Linked DNA regions of Homo sapiens. The protein of the gene in region 1 purifies or fractionates together with the protein of each later gene. This does not show direct contact. Each region holds a gene or a part of one and is shown in the gene's direction. Other genes may lie near its edges.

Region 1 (7,722 bases):
CCTGAAATCCTGCAAAGGGAAACCTTGGATAAGTGGAGACTACTGTAGTCTTTCTCACATTGCATTACTCTTTATTCTGCATCTGTCTTATTCTTTTTCCTTTCCTTTTATTTTTATTTGTAGTAGAGACAAGGTCTCACTGTTGTCCAGACTGGTCTTGAACTCCTGAATCTTCCTGTCTTGGTCTCTCAAAGGGTTCGGGTGCCCTGCCATCCTTCTCCTACTTTTAAGGCCCCTTGTGATTACATTGACTCCATCCAGGTAACTTCCTTATCTCGAGTTTCGCTAATTAGCAACCTTAATTCCCTCTGCAATTATAATTGTCCTTTGCCACATAACCTAATTTATTCGTAGGTTGAGGGGATTAATACCTTGTTATCTTTGGAGACAGCCATTATTCTGCCTACCACGGGGACTATGAGAAATGAGGTCAGTGTAGAAAAGGTAGGACAGGTGTCAACCATTAAGGAACCAAGCAGTGTGACAGGCATTATGTCAGTCTCTTTACTCCAGACATTCCCAGAATTGAAGACAGGAGAGAATTATTTTTCCTCCTCTCTCTAGTGTTCGGTGGTTCTTTTTGGTGTATGTCAAACCATGTAAATTTTGCCCTGATCAAGTAAACCCTTGGCTTTCTTTAAAGAGGTCTATGAAGGCTAGTCAGACCCTCCAATTTTCTATACAATTGCTAGGTTTAGGTCAGGGCTAGTGACTGTATCAACTTTTTTTTTTTTTTTTTTTTTGAGACAGGGTCTCACCTGTCACCTGGCCTGGAGTGCAGTGGTGCCATCGCGACTCACTGCAACCTCTACCTCCCGGGTTCAAGCAATTCTTGTGCCTCAGCCTCCCAAGTAGCTGGGACTACAGGCGCACGCCACCACCACGCCTGGCTAATATTTTGTATTTTTAGTAGAGACAGGGTTTCACCATGTTGGCCAGGCTGGTCTCGAACTCCTGACCTCCAGTGATCAGCACCCCCTCAGTCTCCCAAAGTTCTGGGATGACAGGTGTGAGCCACCACGCCCAGCCAGGACTAGATCAACATCTGAAACGGATGATCTAAGGCTGTTAGCCTAGGCATTCACCCCCTGACATTTTGCTTTTTGGCAGTGATAGAAACTATGTTAAGTCCTGCATCCATGGTTCTGATACAATCAAGTCTCTTGACCACCAGGACTCAGCACTGAGACCTGCCTCTTTTTATTTCTACAATACATGAAATTACTGTTGACTTTTGTCTTTAAAACATCACATAAATTCATTAGGAGCAATTCAAGGGAGAATTTACTGTACATTCATACCTATGATAAAGTTTAATTTATGAATTAGCACGGTAAGATTAACAACAACTAATAATAAGGCTGGGTGCGGTGGCTTACACCTGTATCCCAGCACTTTGGGAGGCTGAGGCAGGCAGATCACCTGAGGTTGGGAGTTCGAGACTAGCCTAACAAAACAAAACAAAAAAAGCTCAAAAAACAACAATAATAAAATAGAACACATTTAAAACTTTTAATCCTGTGTTATTATTCTGATTTGAGGTCTATACTTTCAATTTTGTACCTCCTGGCTATATTTTATATAATAGAGAACATCCTGGTTACACTCATCCTTCCCCCACCTCACTTCCTTTGCATTCTAAGGCTGTGGTATGCAAATTTCTGTTATTAAGAAACAATTTTTTTTTTTGAGACGGAGTTTTGCTCTTGTTGCCCAGGCTGGAGTGCAATGATGCTATCTTGGCTCACCGCAACCTCCGTCTCCCGGGGTCAAGTGATTCTCCTGCCTCAGCCTCTCAAGTAGCTGGGATTACAGGCATCGACCACCATGCCCGGCTAATTTTGTATTTTTAGTAGAGATGGGGTTTCTCCATGTTGGTCAGGCTGGTCTTGAACTCCCGACCTCAGGTGATCCGCCCACCTCAGCCTCCCAAAGTGCTGGGATTACAGGCGTGAGCCACCGCACCCGGCCATCAACAAACAATTTAAACTAGACAGCCTGGCATGGTGGCTTACACTTGTAATCGCAGCACTCTGGGAGGCTAAGGTGGGAGGATCACTTGAGCCCAGGACAGCCTGGGCAACATAGAGAGACCCCATCTCTACAAATAATAAAAAAAATATGGTTCACGCCTGTAATCTTAGCACTTTGGGAGGCCAAGGCGGGAAGATTGCTTAAACCGAGGAGTTCGAGACCAGCCTGGACAATGTAGTGAAACCCTGTCTCCACAAAATTTTTTTTTTAAAAAGAGCTGAACAGGTTGGCGCAAGCCTATACTCCCAGCTGCTCAGGAAGCTGAGGGGGGAGGATTGCTTGAGCCCAGGAGTTTGAGGCTGCTGTGAGCTATGATTGCACCATTGCACTCCAGTCAGGGCAACAGAGTGAGACTCTGTTTCAAAACAAAACAAAAGGAAAACTTGTAGAAAGAAGTTTAAATTTCAGTGCTAAGTTTCCCACTTCAAGTGAACACTTTTTTCCCATTGGCTTTGAAATCTCAGAAAGGTTACTGTGAGAAAGGAGCATATTTAGGGTTGAGCATTGGAGAGGAGACTGGTGGTTTGGGACACCTGTTATTAAAGTACCTTCCTGGTCAAGTTGAACAACAACAACAAAAAATTGGCAATCTTTATGACAGTGCCAATCAAATTGTGGACATGAGGTGGGATGCATCACTTGAAAGCCATACTTTTGAGATACATATTTTAAAACTCTTACCTAGAGTATAATGGTGGTTACCAGAGAGAGGCTGGGAGTTGCGGGGAAGGGAAGGGTGCTGGTCAAAGGATACAAAGTCACAGACAGGAGGAATAAATTATAAGTATTGAAGGTGATGTATATGTTAATTTGAGTGAATCATTCCATACTGCATACATATAAAATTACTGAATATCCCATAACTATATATGATTATAATTGGTCAAAGTAAATAAAAATTTTAAAACTCTTCAATTTTATAAAACTCTTACCTAATATTAATTTTTAATATCATATGAGGATTTTTTTTTTTAAGAGCCTAGGCTAGAGTAACTTACTACAACCTCAAACTTCTGGGCCGAAGCAGCTCTCCTGCCTCAGCCTCCTGTCCCAAGCAGCTGGGACTACAGATGCGCACCATCACGACCAGATAATTTTTAAATTTTTTGTAGAGACAGGGTCTTGCTATGTTGCTCAGGTTGGCCTCAAACTCCTGGTCTCAAGTGATCTTCCTCAGACTCCCAAAGTGCTGGGATTACAGGCATGAGCCACCTCGCCCAGCCAGGATTTTAAAATTCTTTTTTAACCTTGGAGATACCAGAATTGTATTACTCATTATCCTTGGTTCCTAATAGCATTGGTTCATGCATGTTCTGCTTTTATTTACATATTAGCTATTTACCTTTAACAATATAGTAGCCCTGATAGGCCCAACTCCTACATTGTAGGACATCCATGATCTCCTCCCCAATCCCATCCCATCCCCAAGCTCCCCATATGCGAGGTAACCATCATTCTGAATTTCATATTTATCATTCTTTGCTTTTTGTTTTGTATAATTTTAATGACTTCATGTATACTCTTAAATGTAAGGGTGTGTTTATTTTCAACTTTTAAAAAGGTTGTCATACTGTATATAATCTTTTGGGATTTACAGTTTTTCCTTACTATTGTTATGATTTCTCTATATTGTGGGTCACTGAAGTTCATTCTTTTTGAATGCCATGTAATATTATGTTATAAGAAATATCACAGTTTATTCATCCAGTATCCTGTTGCTAGTTATGCAGATCGCTTTCAGGTTCTTGTGAACTATGAAGGAGTAAATAAAGACCAACCAGGTAATTTTCTTAAAATAAATAATAATAAAAAACCAAAAATGTAAAATATTAAATAGTAATGTTTAAAGTGGAAGTATAAATCTCCCTGTAGTCATATTCTCAGAGATAACCAGTGTTAAAATTTGGGATATCTCTTGTCTTCTTTAAAATATAATGCATATCTGCATATACATATTATATACATATACTATATACACATTAAGTTTTTTAAAACAAAAATGAGATCTATAACTTGCTGTTTCCATAGCAATATATCATGGATATCATTACTTGTCAATATGTAGAGATGTACTTTATCCTTTTTAACAGTTCTTTGGTGTTTCACTGTCGACATGTCAATATTTATTCCCTAAACCCCAACTTTGGTTATTTTCAATTTTGTACTGTTGTAAACAATGTTGTAATGCAGATTCTTGTACATACATCTTCGGGCATTTGCTCAATTATTTCCTTAAGATAATTTCCTAGAACTGGAATTGCTGGGTTGAAGGATATGAAGTTTTATTTTTGTCTGTCTTCAACTTTATTTATTTATTGCTGTATATTGCCATATTGCCCACCAAATATCAATTAATAATTTACATTCTTGGCATCATAGTATAGTTCTCTGAGCAGGGAATACCTAGTCCAACCTGAAGTTCAAGAGCGACTTCTTGGAGGAGGTGACCCTGGGTCTGAGTCATGGTGAGAATTTATCAAGACTTCAAAAGAGCAGATAAATAATCCACAAGGACCCCGGATCAGAGAGTGCTCCGAGCTGGGTTGCCCCACTGTGCTTGTATCTGCACTCTCCAACACTAGGCATCATTGACATGTTAAAGCTTAGCCAAATAGAATTGTTCTTTGTCATTCTTTTTTTAACTTTTACTTATTCATTAGGATGATTTCATAATATATTTCCTGGTTTAGAGGAAACAGGAACAATGGCTACCGAGAGTACTCCCTCAGAGATCATAGAAAGAGAAAGAAAAAAGTTGCTTGAAATCCTTCAACATGATCCTGATTCTATCTTAGACACGTTAACTTCTCGGAGGCTGATTTCTGAGGAAGAGTATGAGACTCTGGAGAATGTTACAGATCTCCTGAAGAAAAGTCGGAAGCTGTTAATTTTGGTACAGAAAAAGGGAGAGGCGACCTGTCAGCATTTTCTCAAGTGTTTATTTAGTACTTTTCCACAGTCAGCTGCCATTTGCGGCTTAAGGCATGGTAAGTTGACTTTGTATACTTTTTGGGGTGAGAGGAAGGGGGCAGACTTTCTGAAAAAGAAAACAAAATGAAAGAAAATTGTTGCCTTTTATTTTTGTTAGTCTTTTTCTGGAGATAATTTTCATTGAAATATGAAATAGGGAAAAACTGGAATTTAAAAAGTTTCTGAAATTTAACATCTTATTGGTCTACTGAATCGATAATTTGTTTTTCAGACTGTACTCAAAACTTGAAGTTGTTTTAGTGCTAACAAACTGCTCATTATTCTGGCAGTAACATGCTAAAATCTCACAGTTGGAAGGAAAATACTTTAATAATAACACAATCCAGGGTTTGTTTTTCAAGTAGATGAATTCGTGGATATTTACAGTGCCAAGACCACAAGCTGTATCTTTCACTTAGTATAGCCGTTTTGAAAATACAAGGAAAATAATTTTTAACACATAGATGGCAAATCAGTAGTTTCATTTTTTTGGTGATAAGAATGCCAGCAGCAGCTGTTTTCTGGAGCAATTCCAGTGCTAATTCTTAAATGGTTCAAAGATAACTAGTAGTCCATGAAAAAGCAATTCTTCCAGTTATTTAGCAATTCTGTAAATTACTACTAGGACTAGGTCTAGCTCTTTTTCTAGGAATCTAAAAAAAAATTCAAAATTATTTTAAGGGATGTTAGAGAGGTAGAGGCTCAGATAAAAAGGTGAATGTTAGTGATACCTAATTTAGGACAAGATTTATATGCTTAGAAATTTTTCTTTTATTATTTCTAAAGCACACTATTCCAAATAGAGCCATTTGCTTACTGATTAGAAATTATTTGTGATCAGATTTCATTAGCAATGACCCCAAGAGACGTGAGTCTGTTGTGAGTCACAGTAAGTCCACAAGTAAACACTGTTCATATGATTCAAATTTTTCGTTTTATTCACTTACCCTGTAAGGTTGCTAGGAAGGACTCAAACTTTAAGCAAGACAGTGGTGTGATCTGATTTTTTTTTTTAGTGGAAAAAAGAAAGTTCTGAAAGTTGACATGTTGACATGCAAGTTATATAGGAGGTGTTAGGTATTCCTGTCCTCCAGTGAAATAAGAGGTGGCTGGGCGCTGTGGCTCACACCTGTAATCCCAGCACTTTGGGAGGCCGGGGCAGATGGATCACCTGAGGTCAGGAGTTTGAGACCAGCCTGACCAACATAGTGAAACACTGTCTCTACTAAAAATACAAAAATTAGCTGGGCATCATGGCGCATGCCTGTAATCCCAGCTACTTGGGAGACTGAGGCAGGGGAATCACCTGAACCCGGGAGGTTGAGGTTGCAGTGAGCCCAGATCGTGCCATTGCACTCCAGCCTCGGCAACAAGAGTGAAACTCTGTCTCAAAAAATAAATAAATAAATAAAAGGAGAGGGATGAAGCTTTGAGGCCTCAGGAACTCTAGCTGTTATACAGCTTCTTTTTCTTAATTGGGAAAAACAATTCTTTTCTTTGCAGAAGTTTTAAAACATGAGAATACAGTACCTCCTCAATCTATGGGGGCAAGCAGTAATTCAGAAGATGCTTTTTCTCCTGGAATAAAACAGCCTGAAGCCCCTGAGATCACAGTGTTCTTCAGTGAGAAGGAACACTTGGATTTGGAAACCTCTGAGTTTTTCAGGGACAAGAAAACTAGTTATAGGGAAACAGCTTTGTCTGCCAGGAAGAATGAGAAGGAATATGACACACCAGAAGTCACATTATCATATTCAGTTGAGAAAGTTGGATGTGAAGTTCCAGCAACTATTACATATATAAAAGATGGACAGAGATATGAGGAGCTAGATGATTCTTTATACTTAGGAAAAGAGGAATATCTAGGATCTGTTGACACCCCTGAAGATGCAGAAGCCACTGTGGAAGAGGAGGTTTATGATGACCCAGAGCACGTTGGATATGATGGTGAAGAGGACTTCGAGAATTCAGAAACCACAGAGTTCTCTGGTGAAGAACCAAGTTATGAGGGATCAGAAACCAGCCTTTCATTGGAGGAGGAACAGGAGAAAAGTATAGAAGGTATGGAAATATCTTGTATAGTTAGTTAGGCAACAACTTAATAAGTTAATAAGCTTGCCATGACATAATGGGGATGGGGGATGAAAAAGGGACAGATGTCAGCAGAAAATCAACTACTAAGAAATTCCTCGTGCCTCTCTGACCTGGAATCTCCTCGAGGTAGGTGTTGACTTAAAGGAGCTCCCAGGACCTAGGAAATGATGGACAGCATAAGCAAAAGTAAATATTGATTGTCAGTTTGTAAATTTCTGTAGTTCGTATAAGGAGTTGCCAATCATTAATTTCCCATTATACGTACGAGGAGTTGCTAATCATTAATTTCAGGCTAACCTATTTCTCAGGTTAAACCACTTTAGTTATTTTAGTGCCTTTGTGACCAGAGAGATATGGGGATTATGGGTTTGACTATTTAAGTGAAAACAGTCAGTAAATGGCTAAGATCCCAAAATATTGTTACTTGGCTTGATCCAGTCCACATAATGCCATCTTGATGAGAATTATATTTGTATCTTGAATCTGAATATTTCTTTATTTAAAAAAAATTTGTTTTTAAACAGGGTCTCACTCAGGCTGGAGTGCAGTGGCACAATCATGACTCACCGCAGCCTCTACCTCCCAGGCTCGGGTGATCCTCCTACCTCAGCCTCCTGAGTAGCT
Region 2 (8,005 bases), on another chromosome or scaffold:
GTATAAATAACCCTTATCTCACGGAAAAACAAATATTGATGTAATTTTATAGAATTTTGAACAGATGAAATCAACATATAGATGTGATTCTTGTTTTTTAAGCCTACTTTGCGTAAATATTCTAATATTTTCTTTCTTGTTTAGTTGATGTATTTCAGCATCGATATCCCTTAAACTTTCTATCTTTAGCCAATTAATTGTGGGAATTGAACTATATGTATATGAAGAAATATATAATTTAATTAATTCCCATATATGACTAATAATATATGTTTTTAAAACTGTATACTGGTAAAACCTATCATGAAAGCTAAAGGTTTAAGGTGGTGATTAAAAAATATTTAGAAGGCTTGTGATAAAAAGAATCTTAGCATTTACATGAATTTAGAAGCACCGAACACTTCAGGAATCAGCAGACCAACAACGTACTATCCATCTTTAAAAGGAAGGAAAGTAAGTGTGTGGAGAAATAGCTATTTTCATCATCTACAGGAAAAGAAAATTAGTATAACTTCAATGAAGAACAATTCAATGACATCAACCAAAGTTACAAACCAACATACTCTGATCCTGCAATTTGGCTTCTGGAATACGTAGATATATATGTATGAAATAACATAAGCAAAAATTAACTATTGCAGCATTATCTGTAATAGCATATGTGTGAAAACAAAGTAAATGCCTATCAATGGGGGATAAATTATGGTATATCCATCAGCGTCTAGAAAATAAAAAAGATAAGAGAGCTTTTTATGCATTCATATGGAAAGATATCCAAGATACATTAAGTGAAAAGTAAGCAAAGTAGACGAGTATATAGTGTTATAATAATTACATAAAAGGGACAGATATTTTATATATATATTTTATATATAATTTATATATAATTAAATGTAAACATGCACACATAGTATATATATATATTAATATATAAATATATATTTATATATACATATTTATATATATTTAAAATATATATTTATATATTTAAAATATATATATTTATATATTTAAAATATATATTTAAAATAAATATATATATTTAAAATATATATTTAAAATAAATATATATATTTTAAATATATTTATATATTTTAAATATATAAATATAAACAGAAGTAATATAATATATAAATCTATATTTATATATGCATATACAATATATGCCTATATATATGTGCATGTTTATTTTATATTTAAACCAATTAACTTTTTATTGAAGTACTATATTCAGAAAAGTGAATGTGAGTGTAATCTCCAAGAATTTTCATAAACTGAACACACCCATGCAACTGGCACCTACAGCCTAGGTCCTGAATCAAAAAATAGAACATTACCATCATCCTAAATACCTCATGATTCCCTTCTAATCAATGCCTCTCCCCTACTAGAGAGAAGATTTCTATAAGCATAAGTTAGTTTTATTTATTTTTGTACTTTATACAAATGGACTCATGCAATATGTACTCTTCTGTATCTGGCTTTTTTCATCCAACATTATATTTGTACACTGTTTAATTTCATTCCCATTTAGTATTATATTGCATAAATGTGCCAAAATGTATTTATCTATTCTACTATTTATGGATATCTGGGTAATTTCCAGTTTGAGGCTATTATAAACACCACTGCTATGAACATTCTAGTAGATGCATACACATGTCCACATACCGAAGCAAGGAATTACTGGGTCATAGGATCTGCATATCTACAATTTTAATAGATACTGACATACAATTTACAAAATTGATTGAACCAATCAACACTCCCATGAGCAGTGTACAAGAGCTCCTGTTGCTCCAAATCCTCACTCACACTTGGTATATTCTGTCTTTTTAATTTTATTCATTCTACTGTTTGGATAGTAGTGTTGCAATGTGAATAAAATTTGTGATTCCCTGATAATTAATGATGTTGAGAACCTTTTCACCTCTTTTTCAAGGTATCTAAGTCCTCTTCTCAATTTTTCTATTGCATTATGAGTCCTTATTGTTTTAAATTTTAAACCATGTGATATGGTTTTAAAAAGTAAATTTAAAAGTAATGTAATTAACAATACAAATAAATTCCATGAAGTTCTATGCTTCATGCTCTCTCCTTCTTAGAGATGCATATTAGCATTTCAAAAGTTCTGAAAAGTTCTACATTTTTCACCACCACAAAACAGTTTAGAGAAATGTTGTCTCCCTTCTGATGTAATTTTCATGGAATTAACAATTGTCTCCTTTTTTTACTTGTATTTTTTTTTACAATTCATTCTCCAATTTTATCCCATAGTTCATTAGATCTATCAAACATCTATCAATATAATTTCTCAAATACTCAAAATTAGATAATCTATCATTTCAATTACTGTAACTACTGTTTTCTCTTGAAGTCTGCCATCTCCCTGTTCAGTGAAAATGGGTTGCTCTCCAATTCTGCCATATTTCTCTCATCCTGGAGTTTCCCTTCTTAATTTCCTGGTCCGGTTTTCTGGATCTCATGTCTTTCTTTTTCTTGGGCTACTCCCATGTTTTGCTGAACACATTCTCTAGGAGCTTTCTTTAAAAAAAAAAAATGACATGGAAAGAAAGTATTTCATTCTTGTATATGTGAAAATGTTTTTATTCTGCCCTTACATTTGACGGAAAGTTTGACTATAGAATTCTAAGTTGGAAGTTACTGTCCTTCAGAATATTGGAAAAATTTCACTTCATTATATTTCAGGATAACAATGACTTAGTAACATTGTTAAGAAATTCAATGCCATTCTAATTCCCATCTCTTTAATTTTTGTTTCCGCCCTCTGAAAACGTTTAGAATCTTCCCTTTAGTGTTAGTGTTCTCACCCTTTTAATGATGTATGTGCCTTAATGTAGGTCTTTTTACTTGGTGGGCCCTTTAAATATGAAGACTCCTGCCCTAGCAAAAATTTTTAAATTATTATTTTGATCATTTCTTCCCTGTTTATTTTTTGTTCTCTTTTTCTAGGACTCAGGTTTTTAATTAATTGACTGGATAAACATGTCAGGCCTCTGAGCCCAAGCTAAGCCATCATATACCCTGTGACCTGCACGTATACATCCAGATGGCCTGAAGCCACTGAAGAACCACAAAAGTGAAAATAGCCAGTTCCTACCTTAACTGATGACATTCCACGATTGCGATTTGTTCCTGCCCTTCCCTAACTGATCAATGGACCTTGTGACACTCCTTCTCCTGGACAATGAGTCTCAGGAGCTCCCCACTGAGCACCTTGTGACCCCCACCCCTGCCCGCAAGAGAAAAACCCCCTTTAACTGTAATTTTCCACTACCTACCCAAATCCTATAAAGACTGCCTCACCCCTATCTCCCTTTGCTGACTCCTTTTTCGAACTAAGTCGGCCTACACCCACATGATTAAAAGCTTTATTGCTCACCCAAAGCCTGTTTGGTGGTCTCTTCACACTGACGCGCGTTAACAGAATGAATGGATAGAAAAGTCTTCTGAGTACTTTTTAAGAAAAAAGCTTATTGGCCGGGCGCGGTGGCTCACGCCTGTAATCCCAGCACTTTGGGAGGACAAGGTGGGCGGATCACGAGGTCAGGAGTTCGAGACCAGCTTGGCCAACACGGTGAAACCCCGTCTCTACTAAAAATACAAAAATTAGCTGGGTGTGGTGGCGGGCGCCTGTAATCCAAGCTACTTGGGAGGCTGAGGCAGAAGAATTGCTTGAACCAGGGAGGCAGAGGTTGCAATGAGCAGAGCAGAGATCGCGCCACTACACTCCAGCCTGGGTGACAGAGCACGACTCCCTCTCGAAAAGAAAAAAAAAAGCTTATTAAGCAATAAAGCACAGAGTATCAGACCATATGTTTAGTGCTGAACATTTTATTATAAATGATCAAAAATGTTTAACATACTATTGTTTACAACCTCCCACTACTGTAAAATCTAACATTGCTACTTTCATTTCAGGTAATGCAAAAATACAAGAAGCATTAGCTGTCTGTAGGCAGAAATCTGTTCGAGTCATTCCTTATTACTGAATCCCTAGAATTAATTAAACATCTAGTATGGAGTTGGTATTGTATATAACATTTGCACTCACGTCTTACAAAATAGTCATCTAAGTAGAAAGGTATTCAAGGCAGAAGGATGGAAAAACGTTTGCAGTCTTTTTTGGTTGGCATGAAACACTGACTGCATTCCTCCCAGATTTATAAGAAAGAAATATTTGCAGTCTTACCTGGAGTTAGATGGATGGACTCTCTCAAGGTTATTTTTCAATCTCTGCACATACATACTTATGGAAGTAAGAAAGAAGAGGGAGAAAAGGCAGATCCCCCATAACAGCGGTTAAACACCTGAACTTGCTCCACTATGACAGGGTTTATCATCCACCTCTCAGTCCTCAAGTGGCTGGAAATATGGAAATTGGAGTCCAGGTAGACAGGTGAGTGTACAACCTCTTAAGTGTGGAGCCCTCGGAATTCACAACACTCCCCAAATCGCTTCCTGCGCAGGCGCGGAGTCGGAAGGGAGTCGGAAAGCAGACCCCGGTGCCCCCTAATAAAGCCCCCAGCCGGACGCTGCCGCTACCGGGGTTTGGCAACTTCCGGAAGACCTGTGGCCCAAAGGAGAATCCTGTTGGGGGAGGCGGGGGCCGGTGGTCGCTAACCAATCCGACACCCGCCAGCAGGCTGAAGAGAGGGGCTTTCCCAAAAGGAAAACTTTCCCAAACCTGGGGGATGGGAAGAGAAGACAAAAGGAGCTCCCTTTCCCACTTCCCAGCCGCCCGTCCCAGCCCTCGGCCTCCGCTGCGCGACCCGGGCGGAGGATCCCGGCCGCAGGCCGAGGCGAGAGCCAGGCGGGAGGGCCGCGAGCGGGCTGCCCCTCTCCCCGCCTTGCCGTCCGCCGCTGACGTAACCTGCGAAGTTTGGGGAGGGAGGAGCTCGGGCGGCCGGAGCTGGTCGCTGCGCGCGCCGGGGGGAGGGCCGGGGCTGCGAGAGAGGAAGCTCTTTCGCGGCGCTACGGCGTTGGCACCAGTCTCTAGAAAAGAAGTCAGCTCTGGTTCGGAGAAGCAGCGGCTGGCGTGGGCCATCCGGGGAATGGGCGCCCTCGTGACCTAGTGTTGCGGGGCAAAAAGGGTCTTGCCGGCCTCGCTCGTGCAGGGGCGTATCTGGGCGCCTGAGCGCGGCGTGGGAGCCTTGGGAGCCGCCGCAGCAGGGGGCACACCCGGAACCGGCCTGAGCGCCCGGGACCATGAACGGGGAGGCCATCTGCAGCGCCCTGCCCACCATTCCCTACCACAAACTCGCCGACCTGCGCTACCTGAGCCGCGGCGCCTCTGGCACTGTGTCGTCCGCCCGCCACGCAGACTGGCGCGTCCAGGTGGCCGTGAAGCACCTGCACATCCACACTCCGCTGCTCGACAGGTAGGCAGTCACTGGGGTTCCCTGGAAGAGCCCTCAACTCCTGCATCCCCTCAAGCCCCCTGACAAGCGGGCTCTAGAGCCCAAATGGCAGTGACCGCTTGGGGCCGGCCTCACCTCGTCACCTCTAGGGAGCCCTTCAAGCTTGGGAGATAGGGAGCACCCACCCTTCAAGCTCTGGCACCGTAGGGAGCACAGGCTTCTCTGGAGATGCAGCAGTTGCATTCCTCCACACATCTCTCCATTACCCTTTCTCTCCTTCCCTCTTACTCCTAGGCGTTCTGGCTCCGTACTCCAAAAATCAGCAATCACTGCCTAACTCTAAACGCTGGGTTTACTGAAATTGATGTGTGTTTATATATAGTGGGTGTGGGTTTTGTTTGCTTTGTTTTTTCCTTATTTTTGAAATTGGGCTGTAGGGCTGCACTGTCCAGTAGGTAGCTCTTAGCCACAGGTGGCTATTGAGCACTTGAAATGTGCCCGTCCGAATTGAAGTGTGACCTAAGTGTAAAATACCAGAGTTCGAATGCTTAGTATTTATTAAAAAAAGAACTTATAATATTTTATTATTTGTTTATTGATTATATGCTGAAATAACATTTTTGATATCTTGGGTTAAATATAAGATTAAAATTCATTTTATGTGTTTCTTTTTACTTTATGTGGCCACGAGAAAATTTTAAATTGTATGTGGTGGTGTTCACATTATATGTTTATTGGACCGCACTGCTTTAGAATCAAGGATGTTTTGCTTCTTATTGTTTTTATTTTGGTTTTGGTTTATTATGTGTTGTCAGGAACGTTTTATATCAAACTCAATACTAGCAGTTCAGTTTCTCCCAGTCTCAGTTTCTCTCACAGGGAAGATTAAGTAGAGGAAATGTGTGCTATTTTTGCCACAATAAATTGAACCAAAAGACTGTTAAATGGCCAGAAATTGTAAATGGCTTTCACTTATTGGTTTGTACAGGTTTTAAGGGAAGGTTAGCATTAGTTTCTGTTTTCAGAAGAACATTACAACCGCGTGCCATAGACCTGTGACTGTGTATTAGTCAATGGGTCACTAGTCTTGTGTATTTTACTTCCTACAGGGATTTAACTAGGCCCAGCATTCAGTTCTTAGTGAGTTAACATCCATGATTACAACATTCTCTTCTCCTCCTCCTATATCTAATGTGAAAATACGTCATCCCCGATGCCTGATTGGCCAGAAGCTGTGAGTATCCAGCATCAGATAAATTCCTCAGCTTCCGCCCTGCCAAAGTTACTGGATTTTCACCTGCCTGTGGCTTTTCTTCATTGTCTCTCACTGTCAGGCTTCGATGGCCTAAATGGCACAGGAGATTTGGGACACTTCTAGAGCTTGTTTCCACTTCTTGTCTATCATAATCCAGATTCAGTGATATACAAGGTGTGGTGTCTGTTTACTCCAGGCCTTATATTCTGTGGAGCAAGTGCTGGACAAGTGTGTATATGTGTCTGTAGTCAACTTTTAAGGGTGGTGGTTGGTTAGAGAGGGTGGATATATGTTAGAACCAGTTATGCAAACACTATATGGAAATGTAGCACTGATGGACCCATTAGGTATTGAAAAGCCAATTGATCCTCCCACTTTGGGTGCTGCTTCTCAGGATTTTGATTTATCTAAGCTTTGTGCAGTTTGGGGACCAAGAAGTGAAGAGGGAGTTTCCTTCCCATACTCATGAACAATTTTCATAGTCTAAAATTCTTCACTGAATTGGGTAGGAAATTAATTCTGTCTTCGAGGAAGCCATAAGACCAGCGAAACACTCTGGCATTTACTGCATCACATTCTTTTCTCCAATTTGTTACTTAAGATCTTATCATTGCAGTATTTATGTAGTCTGAGCATTAGATGAGGCTATGCAGTTGACTCACTGGTGTCTCTTTCCTCACTTATAAAATACGAATAATAAATACATGTGTTTCTCGGACTATGGAGAACAATGTTTGCATTGTTCTTTGGGATGACCTGAAAAAAAATAAGTTTATGCAATGTTACATGCTCTTATTTTAATGACTGGTGAATCAGTCTCCATAACCTGACTTCTATCCGATGAGTGGACCTTCCCCAACAATCTTCCCACCCCTTATGAGTAATGAGTCCAATTGGTTGTTCAAATACCCTGTAGATGACATAACTTTTCTGATTAAATTTTTGAGTTAATTTTGGTGATGTGACTATGGAAGCTGTACTTTACACCTTTATTTTCAAAATGTAAAAATCAATTTTTAAAATCTTTTGGCTTTAAAAAAAATTTCCCACTCACTCAATCTTGCCAAAAATCTACCTTCAAGAACTTTCCTACTATATTCTTTGATCAAGCAATAGGGTAGAAAGAATGCAGGCTTTAATGTCCCATGATTGCAATTCAAATCTGACGCCAACCCTGCCACTTATTAGTGTGACCATTAGAAAAGTATTAATTTTTCTGAGCCTTAGTGCCCTCATTTATAAAGTGGAGCTAATGAAACTATGTTTAGAGGGTGATCTTAAGATGCTAGTGCATATAAAGTGACTGACATGTAATAGGGTCACAGTGGAAAGAAGAATGCCTCTTAATGGGAGGAGGAAAGAGTGTGTG

What was found. Proteins that work in one complex are often made in the same cells at the same time.
Region 2: the proteins of CARD6 (region 1) and RIPK2 purify together in Homo sapiens (affinity purification with western blotting; 2 studies listed by BioGRID and IntAct, with this or other methods). This does not show direct contact.

Annotation. Positions count from the first base shown.
Region 1 is NC_000005.10:40,836,645-40,844,366, forward strand, and holds the start of CARD6 (caspase recruitment domain-containing protein 6), read left to right. Parts: upstream 1-4,722; 5' UTR 4,723-4,738; coding exon 4,739-5,021; intron 5,022-6,507; coding exon 6,508-7,065; intron 7,066-7,722. UniProt on the Homo sapiens protein: May be involved in apoptosis.
Region 2 is NC_000008.11:89,752,832-89,760,836, forward strand, and holds the start of RIPK2 (receptor-interacting serine/threonine-protein kinase 2), read left to right. Parts: upstream 1-4,984; 5' UTR 4,985-5,229; coding exon 5,230-5,402; intron 5,403-8,005.